Linked DNA regions of Homo sapiens. The protein of the gene in region 2 interacts with the protein of the main gene of each other region in a pairwise test. Each region holds a gene or a part of one and is shown on either strand. Other genes may lie near its edges.

What was found. The genes of interacting proteins can lie anywhere in the genome.
Region 1: the proteins of VAPB (region 2) and ARL16 interact in binary tests that used the Homo sapiens proteins (3 or more experiments, as listed by UniProt).
Region 3: the proteins of VAPB (region 2) and AP2B1 interact in binary tests that used the Homo sapiens proteins (3 or more experiments, as listed by UniProt).
Region 4: the proteins of VAPB (region 2) and SDCBP interact in binary tests that used the Homo sapiens proteins (3 or more experiments, as listed by UniProt).

The regions. Positions count from the first base shown.
Region 1 is NC_000017.11:81,680,998-81,685,085, forward strand, and holds ARL16 (ADP-ribosylation factor-like protein 16), read right to left. Parts: upstream 2,801-4,088; 5' UTR 2,757-2,800; coding exon 2,696-2,756; exon of another isoform or gene 2,598-2,695; coding exon 2,539-2,597; intron 2,130-2,538; coding exon 2,016-2,129; intron 1,679-2,015; exon of another isoform or gene 1,246-1,678; coding exon of another isoform or gene 1,153-1,245; coding exon 1,037-1,152; intron 883-1,036; coding exon 711-882; 3' UTR 190-710; downstream 1-189. Other genes in the region: HGS (hepatocyte growth factor-regulated tyrosine kinase substrate), read left to right, coding at 3,070-3,106. UniProt on the Homo sapiens protein: May suppress the RNA sensing activity of RIGI in a GTP-dependent.
Region 2 is NC_000020.11:58,395,607-58,399,371, reverse strand, and holds part of VAPB (vesicle-associated membrane protein-associated protein B/C), read right to left. Parts: intron 1-3,765. UniProt on the Homo sapiens protein: Endoplasmic reticulum (ER)-anchored protein that mediates the formation of contact sites between the ER and endosomes via interaction with FFAT motif-containing proteins such as STARD3 or WDR44.
Region 3 is NC_000017.11:35,625,322-35,628,821, reverse strand, and holds part of AP2B1 (AP-2 complex subunit beta), read right to left. Parts: intron 2,202-3,500; coding exon 1,980-2,201; intron 1,438-1,979; coding exon 1,317-1,437; intron 1,192-1,316; coding exon 1,096-1,191; intron 1-1,095. UniProt on the Homo sapiens protein: Component of the adaptor protein complex 2 (AP-2). Adaptor protein complexes function in protein transport via transport vesicles in different membrane traffic pathways.
Region 4 is NC_000008.11:58,580,310-58,583,358, reverse strand, and holds the end of SDCBP (syntenin-1), read right to left. Parts: intron 2,843-3,049; coding exon 2,751-2,842; intron 1,674-2,750; coding exon 1,619-1,673; 3' UTR 501-1,618; downstream 1-500. UniProt on the Homo sapiens protein: Multifunctional adapter protein involved in diverse array of functions including trafficking of transmembrane proteins, neuro and immunomodulation, exosome biogenesis, and tumorigenesis.

The DNA.
Region 1 (4,088 bases), on a different chromosome or scaffold from region 2:
GTACCAGCGGCTCAGCAGGTTGGAGGTTGTGCTACAGCAAGAGGCCAGGTTTCAGTGGCACTGTGCAGTCCATACGCCTTGGGGGCAGTCCAGCAGGTCTCCAGGAAGGAGGTGAGCCAACCCCAATAGCACCACTCTAAGATACAGAACACTCGGCCATCTGCAGGCCCTGCTCATCCAGTCTGGGGACAGGTTTTTATTTTTTTATTTCTTATATTTTTTAAGACGGAGTTTCACTCTTGTTGCCCAGGTGCAGTGCAATGGCATGATCTCGACTCACTGCAACCTCCACCTCCCAGGTTCAAGGGATTCTCCTGTCTCAGCCTCCCAAGTAGCTGAGATTACAGGCATGCACCAGCACACCCAGCTAATTTTGTATTTTTAGTAGAGACAGGGTTTCTCCATGTTGGTCAGGCTAGTCTCGAACTCCCGACCTCAGGTGATACACCCGCCTCGGCCTCTCAAAGTGCTGGGATTACAGGTGTGAGCCACCATGCCTAGCCCCTGGGGACACTTTTTTCAGAGGCCAGATGTCAACTTCCATCTCCACATGCCTCAGTTTACACATCATTGCATCTCAGCACAGAGCCCCATCATGTAGGGTTACTTTGGGTTATTCTGCCCCTGTGAGAAGAAACTATTGGCAGCAAAGCCATACTGCCCTCTGCCACCTCTCCCCAGCTCAGGCCAGCTGCGCCTCTGCCGTGCAGTCAATCGTTGGCTCTGTGGGTGGCCTGGAGCCAGGCCAGCACCCCTGCTAAGCCAGTGCCTTCACGGGCGCTGATTTCTGCCGTGGTGATGTTCTGCTTGGCACAAGCAATGATGTCTGGAAGCCTGATTAATGACTTCATCTCCTCCGTGGACATGTAACAGGGTAGGTCGCTGGAGAGAAAGAGGTGCCCCATCAGAGCAGTGGCAGCCACACACCTGCCCCGGACCCCCAGCTGCACCACCTCCCTACCGAGCCATGCTTCCGGCTGTAACCCGAGGGAGCCCCCGCCCCCGCTGTGCTCCCTCTCAGCTCAGGGACGCGTACATTTTATTGAAGAGTATCAGCACCGATGCTTCTGCAAGTTGTTCTGCAGAAAGGAGACCTAAGAGCTGCACACAGGATGCAGAGAGCTGGGTGGGGTCAGAGGCGTCCATCACAAACTGGGGAAAAAGAAAAAGACAGCAGCAATGCCCCGCTGCCAAACTTCCTCCCCTGGGCCTCACAGACCTGGCACTGGGAGAGCAAAACTGCATTTTTTAATTAATTAATTTATTTTTTGAGACGAAGTCTCGCTCCGAGTGCAGTGGCACGATCTCGGCTCACTGAAACTCCGCCTCCAGGGTTCAGGGTTCAAGTGATTCTCCTGCCTCAGCCTCCCAAGTAACTGGGACTACAGACACCCGCCACCACGCCTGGCTAATTTTTTGTACTTTTAGTAGAGACGGGGTTTCACCATGTTAGTCAGGATGGTCTCCATCTCCTGACCTCGTGATTCGCCCACCTCAGCTTCCCAAAGTGCTGGGATTACAGGAGTAAGCCACCGCGCCCGGCCCAAAGTAGCTTTAAACAAAGCTTTGGGAACAAGCAGAAGCAGAGGGAATCGAGTTTTATGAAGACGACCTGGTGTCACTCGTCTCTGTCCTCATGTGGCCATCAGTTCTCCATACTGGTATCCGCGGCACAGGCCTTATCAAGATGAGACCAACCAGAGGTACGTATAAGTCCAACATAAACACAGACGTACCGGGGAGTGACACAGAGGGCCAAGTCTGTTCTCTGCGGAGCAGCAGCCCTGCCCTCAGCAAGCCCTCTGTGAGCTCCTACCGGGGGCCTGGGAGCGCAAGCACCAGAAACCAGACAGGGTGCCCAGCAGGAAGCAACACTAGCTAAGACCTATTTCCATGAGTAGTATAGTCACTAAATAACCCAAACCCCTTTCTACACACAGCAAGGTTGGGGACTGGACGTCACAGAAATGTAGACACACTTCCCTAAAGGAAGCCCATATAGGATTACAACCCACCAGGAGAGAACGGCAGTTTCCATAGTAACTGGACCAGATGGGGCCCATGCACCCCCCAAGCTCCCGGATGGTGATCTTTCTCTGTGCCACGATGTCAGTAAGATTGGTGCCCACCTATAGGAAAAACCACGATGCAAAAAGAACAATACAACCGCTGTCCCGTTGTGAACTCCTGAAGAGCACCGTGCCCACACCTTACACGGTGGCCTGAACCCCGCAGACCCATTCTCCCTAACGCAGGAACGGCGAGCAGGGACCGACGCCCATCAGTAGCTGGACTCGCTGTGGGGGCGACCAGCCACAGGAAGCCGTTGCGAGGGGAGAGGAAGTGCCCGTGGAGGGCGGCAGGCCCCCTCATCCCGCGCCAATTATCCTCAGCTCGGGCCGTCCCCCGCTCCCGAAGGCTGGCCTTAAGTCACGACCTGACCCGCTGCGCCTCGGCGTGCACTTAGAGGAGCCCGGAGCTCTTCGCCAAGCGCAGAACTGACCCCCCGCAACTCCACCCGCGGGGGCGGACACCTACCGTGGGCCGTGTCGGGGGCGGCTCCCCCAGGTCGCCTTTCCCATCCCGGGAGCTCACCTGTGCGAAGCGGTCAAGGACCCGAGCAGCTAAAGGGTGAGTCCCCGCCCCACTCCGGGTGCCCCCCGCGCCCCGGTCCCGTCCCCGCGCGGAAGGATATCCTGCAGCCGTTTCACCAGCAGCGTCTTCCCGACGCCCGTGGCCCCCAGCAGGAGACACATTCCGTGCTTCGCTCCACCCGGCACCCGTAGCTCGGCGCCGCGGCTCAAGGCCCGCCCACCGGCCACTCTCATTGGATAGTTCTCACCTTCGGACTTCTCATTGGTTCTTAGGGCTCATTGTTCCAAGGGCGCGTCCAATTAGCGCGCAGCGTTAGCGGGAGAGCGGAAGACCCCGCCTCCTCGCGGCTCTAGGGCCGGCGCGGTGACGTGCGCGTGCGCGCACTGGAGGGAAAAGGCGGAAGCGGAAGTCGGGGGGCGCGCCAGCTCGTAGCAGGGGAGCGCCCGCGGCGTCGGGTTTGGGCTGGAGGTCGCCATGGGGCGAGGCAGCGGCACCTTCGAGCGTCTCCTAGGTAACGCGTCCCCACCCGACGGCTCGGCCTTGGTCAGCCCGCAGCCTCCGCCCGGCGCTGAGTCAGCGCGGCCCCGAGGGCCCGAGGGGCGCGGACCGGCCGCCCTGCCCGCCTCTCCCCGGCCCGCTGTCCTCCCGGGTTCGGAGCCGCCGATCCTGGACCCTCGGCGCGGCCGTGGGGTCGGCGTCCGTCGGGCGTTGGCAAATGGGGCTCTGCGAGGGTCCGCGCAGGGCGCCAGGGGCGCTCGGCGACCTCGCTCCTCCGCGGGCCCGGGCATTCGGCCGATTTCCTCTTGACCGACGAGCACCCGGCCGAGTGGGCCACAAGGCCTGAGTCATGAAAGTGGGTGACTCAGTCGGATGTTAGGCTCGCACTTGGGCTTCTGACCCAAAACACTGGGCCTCGAAGGGTGGAGCCGGCAGTGTTCTCTCTGGGACCTTCGAGCTCTCTTGGGGGCTGCGGGTCCCAGACCCACCTTTTGTTCCCACACTGGCTTCGGGAAGTGCCTAATGGTTTAGGAAGGCGTTTTCTCACGTTTTTGGAGGTGAAAGCTGATCCTATCTGAGCCTCCTGGAATTGACGCGTTTTGGGAGGGAAACGAATGTTGATGTGCACGTGCCCAGCAGCACGTGGAAAATGCGTCTAATGTTTGGGGGTAGGAGCTTGGGTGGTCGAATGGGCTGCCCAAGCTTGCCTTTTTGTCAAGTAGGGTTTTCAAGGAGACTTCAAGTGAGACACCTTCCTTGCCAAGGGAACCAGCAAGCAGACTGAGTATCTCAGCCACACAGGTAGTTCAGTGCTTCAGGGATGAATCCAGAGGTTAACTACTGAATCAGTATAGAAAGTGGACGTGGCTTGGCTTGTTAGATCGTTTCTGTATCCGGGAAAGGCGATGTGGGCAGAGCTGGAGCTGCCCCCCCAGAGGGGCCAGTTGTTGGAGACAGCAGTGATGTGGTATGATGACAGGTATGCTGGCGAGTCC
Region 2 (3,765 bases):
CAACGAGACAATTACAAGACTACAATTATAATAAGGCACTTTTTCTTTCTTTTTCTCTCTTTTTTTTTTTTGAGACGGAGTTTTGCTCTTGTTGCCCAGGCTGGAGTACAATGGCACGATCTCGGCTCACTGCAACCTCCACCTCCCCAGCTGAAGCGGTTCTCCTGCCTCAGCCTCCCCAGTACCTGGATTACAGGCATGCACCACCACGCCCGGCTAACTTTTGTATTTTTAGTAGAGATGGGGTTTCACTATGTTGGTCACGCTGGTCTCGAACTCCTGACCTCAGGTGATCCACCCACCTCAGACTCCCAAAGTGCTGGGATTACAGGTGTGAGCCACTGTGCCCAGCCTTTTCCTTTATTTTTCTATCCCATTTCTCTTTCAAGCCTCTTTCTCTAGTCTCACTCCTCCTCTCATCTTCCTAACATAATAAATAAGAAAGCCAAGGGCACACTCCCACTTATCTTTTAAGGGAAGAAACACAGCCAGCATGACGACAAAAAAAAAAAAAGCCATAGCCTTTGCAATCAGACAGATCTTGATTCAAATCCCAGCTCCAACCCTCAGTCAGGTTCATAACTTGGGTTAATAACTTCAGGATCATAACTGTACCCACTTCCTAGGCTTGCATTAAGAATTAAATAAATGAACGCTTAGAAAAATGGCAAGCGCACAGTGTAAGCTCGCCAAGTCACATATCTCAAATGCCATCTTCCCTGTGAGATCGAACACCCAAAGCAGAATTAACACAGCTTTTTCTAAGCTCTCAATAAGGACAGGCCATAAATATCTTGTCCCCATTTTCCCTCGTCTCCCAATACCTAGAGGCTGGAAACTTTAAGGGCTAGGCCTTCCTCCCAGGTCCCCAGTGCAACCTAGTGCCTGGCCCACAGGAAGCTTTCAGTATGTGGTAACTGAACCAAATCTCAATCAGAGTCACGCTCAATTCCCCCAGAAGGAGTCATCTGTCTATAAAGAAAACCTCAAAGGATCTGCAAAGGGCAGAAACCCAAAACAGCTCTAATTTGGACAATCATCTCTTATGTACAGACAATCCCCGATTGGTTTGACTTGCGATTTTTCAATTTTACAATGGTGTGAAGCCATCATAATTTTGACATATTTTGAATTTTGATCTCTTCCCAGGCTAGTAATATGCAGTACATGAGATATTCAATACTTTATCATACAATAGGCTTTGTGCTAGATGACTTTGTGCAACTGGAGGCTAACTTAAGGGTTCTGAGTATGTTTAAGGTAGACAAGGCTATGATGTTGGGTAGGTTAAGCTGTATCTAATATGTTTTCAACTTATAATATTTTCAACTGACAATGGGTTTCTGAGGATGTAACTCCGCTGTAAGGTGAGGAACATCTGTAAGAGATCATTATATCCATGCATGTCTCTAAATCCTTTCTGATCCAATTCGTATGCCTGGCGTATCATCGTCTTGGAAAATGACGACTTCCCAAAGTGTATCTCATACAGAATAAAACAGCACTTTTTAATCACCTTAAGTTTACCTCTTTGAACAATTGAGACAAGTCTCTAGTTTATTAACTCACCCTTATTTGTTTCTCTGTCCAAGGCAATGGCTGGTCAGGAGCATGCAGAACTAAAGGTTTTGTAGCAACACTTACAAAGTTTAAGGTGGCACTGCTAAAGATCATTTATTTTAGACATTCCTATCTTAATAAGTGCCCTTTACAACTTCTTGAATTCCCACTCTACAAACCTGCAAGCCTATGAAATCTCTACCACACACAAGCTTTGCCCTGCCTTCCAAAGACTGGATAGCAGAAGGACAAATTACCCACAAGTTAATGTGTTTTGTTTTTTTTTTTTTTTGAGACAGAGTTTTGCTCTTGTTGCCCAGGCTGGAGTGCGATGGCGGGATCTCGGCTCACCGCAACCTCCGTCTTCCAGGTTCAAGCGATTCTCCTGCCTCAGCCTCCCAAGTAGCTGGGATTACAGGCATGCGCTACCATGCCCGGCTAATTTTGTATTTTTAGTAGAGATGGGGTTTCTCCATGTTGGTCAGGCTGGTCTCGAACTCCTGACCTCAGTTGATCTGCCTGCCTCAGCCTCCCAACGTGCTGGGATTACAGGCATGAGCCACCATGCCCGGCCGAATGCTTTCTAAATATATAGAATCAAGAAACCATCAGAATCTGATATAAAAGTGAATATTCACAAGAGAAATCAAACATTCTTTGGAGTCATCTGTCTGAACTTTTTCAAAAGTAGGGCAAGAAATCCCTCCTAAAAAATTCAGAGAATAACTCTTAATGAATTGATGTTCTTAAGAAATTGTCCTGACAGCTATTAATACTTCATTAATGGTTTTAAATTCTCTGCCTCCCTCTCTCAAGAACAAACCCCTTTATGAGTTAACTCTAATGAGCTGATACTGGTATGAGGGAAAGTACAAGGCTTTGCCTGTGCCACCATTTACTAGTGCAGCCTCATCCAGCAGAAAGTTACCTAGCCACTGACTAAGTCATCTCATACGATTGTTACACAGATTAAACAGTAACATAAATATGGCAAAGCACCTCTTACCACAGTTCCTAAACTGTGTGGCCTATCTTCTGGAATTAAAGCATTTATCCTCTAGAAATGTTTGTTCCTTCTTTACCTTTCTTTACCCTTATATTGCAAAATGTATGTCAGCCACTGCTTTTAACTCCAGACCCGACCCAACGGGGTGTTGGGGGGCACATTTCACCACTCACACATATGACCACTCCCAGATCCTTAGGTTCCATTTTCAATTCCCCTCCATTCTCTGAGCACCCTTCAGCCTTTCAAGACAACTCAAGGAACTTAGAGCTCTAAACCACATCACAAGGAAGTAATTTAAATCTAGGTAAATGGTCTAGGGGTACATCCCATTGTCTTAAAGTACAAGCTAAAAGATGAAAAACACTGCAGTCTCAATCTACCCCTAAAACATTTATTGCCCTAGTCTCCACTTCCCAGATGGGCAAAGGCTGAAGGAGCCTACTGAAATGCCAACAATGTAGTAATTGAAACACATTATAGGTATCGGCCAATGTGCCCTACACAACACGAGGTGGGCATGCACACACACACCCCCCAAAAGCGTGAAGACATCACTTGACACAGGTGAAAATACTAACATGCTAACCAAAGGTCAATATTAGCCCTTCTGAAAGGATGAAGGAAAACTCCAAGAAAGCATTTCTGTAGCTTTACAGTTCTATGCAATAAAAAAATGTTATTAAAAGAAAGTATTCCAAGGTTTTCTCACGGGACTATGCCATTTTCTCAACTGCTTCCCAACCCCCAAACCCCCATGCAAGGGGGGTTTGTCTTTGTCTACAAAGACAGTGTTTGTAGACATCAACAGCTTCTGTTAAAAGGATGCATTTAACAGTTTGAAAAATATTCTAGAGATAGTATTTTACCACATTCAGTTATTTTGTTTGTTTTTTAAATAATCCTCAAGTGACTGTCAAGTTTAGTAACTTTGTTTCCATACCAAAGCTCTTTAAACAACTCTTCCTTGTGTAAAGCCAGCTGCCCACATCTGTCAGGTAAGAACTTCAAAGAACGCACATACCCACTGAGCAAGGCCAAAGCAATCCTGGATATGCTATGCTGATAACAGCCTGAAAGGGGCCTAAAATGATAGAAAAAAACAAGGATGCCAATCTGGAAACCATAATGCAACTTTGTTTTTAACACAATCCTCGGTGCAAAATAACGCAAAAGGCTTTTGTTTTATTTTATTAAAG
Region 3 (3,500 bases), on a different chromosome or scaffold from region 2:
AAAGGCATATTATTTCAATCTACCATGATAATGGATATAGGAACAAAAACCTTCATTATGTAACTACACTGGAAAACAGGAGACGGAAGTGGGAATGGTGGGTGTATGAAGTAAACTTCTTATAGCAGATAGTTAACAGAAAAAGTCTATGATAGGTAAATTAATAAATAATAGCATAAGAATATTATTGTTGTTCTTTTTTTGAGACAGCGTCTTGCTCTGTCACCCAGAGTGAAAAGGTTTCAGGTTGGAGTGCAGTGGCACAATAACAGCTTACTACAGTCTCAGCCTCCCAGACTCAAGCAATCTTCCTGCCTCAGCCTTCCAAGTAGCTGGGACTACAGGTGTGTGCCACCACACCCAGCTAACTTAAAAAAGTTTTTGTAGAAACAGAGCCTTACTATGTTGCCTAGGGTGGTCTCAAACTGCTGGGCTCAAGCAGTCCTCTCACCTTGGCCTCCCAAAGTGCTGGGATTACAGGTGTGAGCCACTGCACCCAGCCAAGAATATTATTTAGAGATATGGCAGCCCAGTCATGTCTCCAAATCCATGGGAGATTGGTTCCTGGGCCCCTGTGGATACCAAAATCCATGGATGCTTAAGTGCCTTACATAAAATGGTATAGTATTTGCATTTATACACATTCTCTTGTATACTTTAAACCATCTCTAGATTATTTATAATACCTAATGCAATGTAAATACTATGTAAATAATTGTTATATTTTTAAGGAATATAGACAAAAAAAGGTCTGTACATGTTCAGTACAGACAAAACCATCCTTTTTCTTTTCCCCTGAATATTTTTGATCCGCAGTTAGCTGAATCCACGGATGTGGAACTCATGGATATGGAGGACCTATTTTAATCAAAAGAATAACTAAAAGCAAAATCAGAGTTAAAAATATTCCCTCTGAGAAGAAAGTCTAGGTAGGGAAGGGAGGAACCAGAGACAGCTGCTTTCCATTAAAAATTCTTTAACATTGAAACTGTGTGCTTTATTATTTTGATAAACTTAAAAATTATTTTAAAGAAAAAAGTGAAGAGAACTCTCAGAATCCCCAATACATGATCCTAACTACCATCAGACACTTGCCTCCACCTTGATGGCACACCGTCCAATGGCCCGCACAGCTTTTCGAACAAAGTCAACATCCACCTCTGTAGCATATTCTTTCAGTTCTGCCAGAACCTGTTAAACCCAGGAAGTGGTTAATCATTAAGGATTCTCAAATAGCAATCTCACAGCCTAGCTTCTTTAAAGGCCAGACCTTAAGAGCTAAATCATCATCAACTTGAGTCTGCATAAAGTCTGACCTGAGCAATGTTGGCTTGAGATGCCAAACGAATCATGATGTCCAACTTCTCTAGTTTAACATAGATGGGATCATTGTACTTCACAAAGAAGACTTTGATTTCCTGCTTCAAGATTTCAGGCCTAGGGTACACAGAAACAGAAGAAAGGAAGGTGAAGGCATATACTGATATACCCTTCTGAGACTGTATTAATACCTAATCTGTGCCTCTCTGCTCTCCTCTCGCTCCACTCAGGCAAAAAAAAAAAAAAAAAAAAAAAAGCATAAACTTCCTCTATACGCCTCTATTCTTATCAGTTCCACTTGGCAGATTATTTTTATCCTTTTTAAGCATCAGGGCACATGTTGCCATGAAGAACTGCTAGAACAACAATCTGGCTCTAAACTACAGCCTGAACCATATCAACCAGGCACTAGACAGTATATCAGAAAGAGACCCTTCAGAAAACAAACTGGATTGTGGAGCAACGCATGGCATTTATTATAGAAACACTGTAATATCAACTGTTAGCCTCCTGGTGCTAGGCAAGCAAGTTTTTCTGCCATATAACATTTTCATTTCCATATATTAAAAAGAGATTAACACTAGCCTAATTAACATTGACATTATTAAGCTTAATGCAAAATTACAAACACTTTAATCAACACTTCGCTATTTCCCAACCTTTTCTGGACAATTAAGTTGATGTTCCTCAGGGCGACATACTGCACTTCTGGCTCCCCAGACAGCAAAGTGACAAGTGGAGGGGCTAACTTCTTCAGCAGCATATTGTAGTAGTCAGAATCCTTAGGTAACAATTCTAGAAACTTCATTAGGACTTTTACCGCTGAAAGCACCACTGCTGAGTTGGCATGGGATAGCCGGGGAGTTACCCGCTCACAGATGCTGAGGGTGGAGAATGAAAATTAATATCATGAATTATAATTTATTTGCTGAATTCATTCTATAAGGTAATATGTCAGAGTCTAATGGCCAAGTATCAAAAAATTAAAGAATTAGTTAGAAAAGTCAAAGCTCCATGCTTAGGTAAAATTGGGATCCAACAATGCAGAAGCCTCATTCTCAGCAAACTACAGGCAGAGCAGGGACATAAGAAGACTTCAGGAAACCAGTAATAAGGGATGTTCAAACTGGAAAGAACCTAGCAATACCCAAGACACTTGAGCTCACACCATTTACCTTCTTGTTTTATAGTCCTCTTTGTCTCCCCATATTATGTTAAGGCTCCCTGCCTCTCAGCCCATTTCTACTCAACCTATAGGAAGTCAAATTAAGCATTCTGAGAGTTATTTCATAGGAAGAGACAGCAAACGCAGTTGTGGCTGAAGATTTCATTGTAAGATACAGCAGGAGGCAGGCTGGTAGGGAAAACAATCCAACCTCCTCTCTTAAGGATAATGAGAATAAGGGACTCTCTGAAAAGGGTTTGTTTTTTAAATAGCAGGACACCACTACTATATTTTCCTGTCTCCCCCCTCTCCTAGCCCCTGCCACCTACACTTACATGCCTCATAAAATGGTTGATATTTAATTATCTGTTGAGGGTTCTTTAGAAATTAATCCAATTTTGGTAGCTTGGGCAACACAAGTAGCTAACTTACTGTATTAAAGAAAGAAGATAAATAGGCTGTACTTCTCTCTTCCTCCTATTCCTGACTTCCTTTGGGTCTTTATATGAATGCCACCTTCTCAGTGAGGTCTTCCCTGGCCATCCTTTAAAAAGAAAATACAACCCCTCACCCCCAAATGCCCAGCATTTCTTAGATTTCTTCTCTACTTTACTTTCTTGTTAGTACTTATCACCATCTCACATATTACATATTACACTATCTATACATATTATATATTATATTATCTATACATATTATATATATTCCTACCCCCATCCTTCAGAATAAGTGATCCCAGAGGGCCATGACTTTGTTCACTGCTGTATCCTCAGAGCCTGGAACACTGCCTGGCACACAGTATGCACTTAATAAATATTTGCTAAGTGAGTGAATGAATGAATGTGATGTCAATGGCCAACAGAAGAAAATAAAATTCTCAGTAAAGTTATTTCCAGACTATATTTGTACTTTCAGTGATGGAAAGAAACTATCAGAGTGAGCTTTAGTTCAGTCCAGAGGGACAATTTCCCAGATAAGTGAAGATCACTTACATTCTAGTAGCTTGGAAATCAGC
Region 4 (3,049 bases), on a different chromosome or scaffold from region 2:
ATATTTTTTTCTCTTCTAAATTTCAAACAAGGTAAGCTGTATAGCAGTAGCAGATTTCCTTTTATATTCAACCTCTGAACCATGGTAAGTGTGTGACTTATTATTTTTTCTATACTCTTTAAAAACATTGTTGTATCTTGCAGGTAGTATGACATAGGAGAAAAAACTTGAGTCAGACCACACTAATAGAATTTCCAAAGTCAGTTTCAGTGTTATTAAATATTACCTGGTCTCAGGTATTGCTAGGGACAATCAGTAGCCTCAATGAGTTCCTGCTGCATGGCAGGTGTGAACCAGCTCTTCTTTTGGCCCTGGTAATCTGGGGTTCCCAGCTGGAAGCAATTTTCCTGACACTCAGTCTCAGCACTGAGAGCTGTTCTTAGGGCCCCTGAATGTCAGCTTGTTCTGGGAGATGATGTCTCCCACAGCTGAAAGTGAATTTCACCTGCCTGTCTTCTAGATCATGCATAAGTTTGGTGAAAGCAAATGATGCAGTAATAGACAGACTAAAATGTAACTTTATTTATACATATTTAATTAGAATAGACATAAACCAAAAAGAAGAAAAAAATCAGGATAAAGTGTCAACTATCATTTTGTTTGCAAGGAGGAGTCAGGAAAAGGAACAAGTTATCAGAAAAATATTCTAAGACCATCCCAAAGTAGCTAGGTTACATAATCTTAAGAGTCAAATGCCAAAATTAAGTATTATACCACTTAATCCACAAATGAACAAAAGGGGAGTCAAAAGTTTATCCTGTTTAGTGTAATAACTTTTACATCACATATAGTGATTCACTTCTTAAAAGTGGCACTGGCAACTTTTAGAAGAAAGAAGTTTCCATTATGTGTTGACTAAAAAATCTCAAAAACAACTAAGCAGCTATGCTATAGCTCAGTAAGTACCATTAAACTGTTCTGGGCTAGTGTACATTTCAGGTTAATAGAGAACTACATTTTGGGTTTTTAGAAAGGCAGCAATAATTATATTTTGGCTTTTAGTCTAGATGCTTAACATAGTTAAGGCGACAGTTCAAGCATATTAAGTGAAGGTAGTTAAAATTTAAGAATCATCACAATCTCTTGAAACCTACATACACTGTTTAATGCTTACATGGAATGAAACCAGTGTTCTTAATTGGCATTTTACACACACACACACAGAATTTAAAAAAAAAATCAAAGGCAATCATTCTAAATGTACTATGATAGCATGTTAAAGATGCAAGTATGCTATAGAACTAAAGTAATATGAACAGCACTACTCATTACCTAGGAGAAAGGTGACTGGTTTTCACACAAAGCTAAGCCTGTAACAGTCATCCTAATCACAATGGCTTATAAAAGCATCAGGTTTCCAGTAGAGAAACTATTCTAGGAAAGTCAGTAAATCTCTTGAAAGTTTCACATCTGTAAAACCAGGATAAGGCTACAACTATTTTGAAATCTGAACAAGGTATCAGATGAAAGAGTAAGATTCCCAGCCATAATGTAAGATAGAAAGGTCCTCATGCAGCATATGCTCGCTGGCTCCGGGAAGGCTTCACGTGCATAATACAGAAGTTGCCAAAGAAGGAAACTGGAGACGTTCAGCTACATTTCCATGGTGCCGTGAATTTTAAACCTCAGGAATGGTGTGGTCCATTAGGCTTTTCATAATGCTTGGTGCCATCCTACAAGAGAGGTACTTTTATTATATACCGAGATTCTGGTTTTTGTTTTTCAAAATGCTACATTAATCCAAGAAAATTCCCAATTCCAATTTAGCACCTGTTAGCATCAAATATGAATGGAGAGAAGGGAAAGATCTTTTAAATGAGTCCAGAAGCATCTCTGGTAATCTAGTTGTTGACAGACACTCAGTGGGAAAGACTATCTGTATTTGGCTAGAGAAGTTAGGATACAAATGAATTCCTGTGCATTAAACATGGTGATTTTTAAAAAACAGAAAGAAAATGACAAGGCTGTGATGAGTTGGGGTAGAGGGATCCATCAGTGATTTAAGAAAAGAGAACCCTAGAAAAATTAGTCATGACAATAACTCCTTTTTACCCCCTCCAAGGGTAGCTAGGTGCATTCTATCCAGAAGCCAACACAAAAATTTCATTACAATGGTTATGTTTATGAATCTTTTAAATCTCATTTTCACATGCATAATAGAGCTTCTGAAAGGATTCCAAGCTGGCTTGACAAAAACAGCTATGGTAGATGCTAGGATATGAAAAGCTCTATAGAAGGAACCTTGTTGCCTCTTTTCAGTTCTGATCACTTGGCTTTCTAATCCTCAGTTCCTGAGCACAGATAGCACCAACACACCACACTTGTCTATCTGCCTCTTGAGATTCTGGAGAGAAGGGAAACTTACTCTTAGCATTCCACCAGCAAGAATTCTCCATTACGAACCACCACAACTATATTTATACTGAGCAGAGGGGTGGTAGGCAGTGCAACTGCAGTCAATTGCACTGCAAATTGAAAGCTGAAAGCATGCCCACTTCTCCTTGCATACCTTTTTTCTACCAGGCATTATAAAAACTGAGGAAAGTATATGTGAATTTTATTCCGTACTTGGGAAGTTGTAAGAGCTCATCCTTACCAACCCTCTGATTTAAATAACTTACTTCAAATTTCTAGATAAAACACCAGTATCCATTCCTTGGGTAAAAGAACCAAAGGGCTGAGAATTAAAGTATAGTGCTTATATTAAGTCACATGACCATATGCATTAAGTTGAGGAATTGTTTACTTACCGCTTAATAATATGTTCAAAGATAAAAGCAGGCATGATTGTAATAGTAACTACAGTCCCAGATGTTGACAGTATGTCTGCAATTTGAGAGTCCTGATAAAAACACATATTAAAAATTAATTCCACAGAGGCTTTATTTAATAAATACAAAACTATGCCAGTCTTGGTAAAGAAATACAAAATATATGTCTTGGTATTTCTAATTTTTTCTAGTATTTCTTACCAAGTTTAATTGTACACTATTTTACAGCTAGTAACCAAATTGCTTAAGTAAACTGAGTTGAATATTTTAACCAAAAA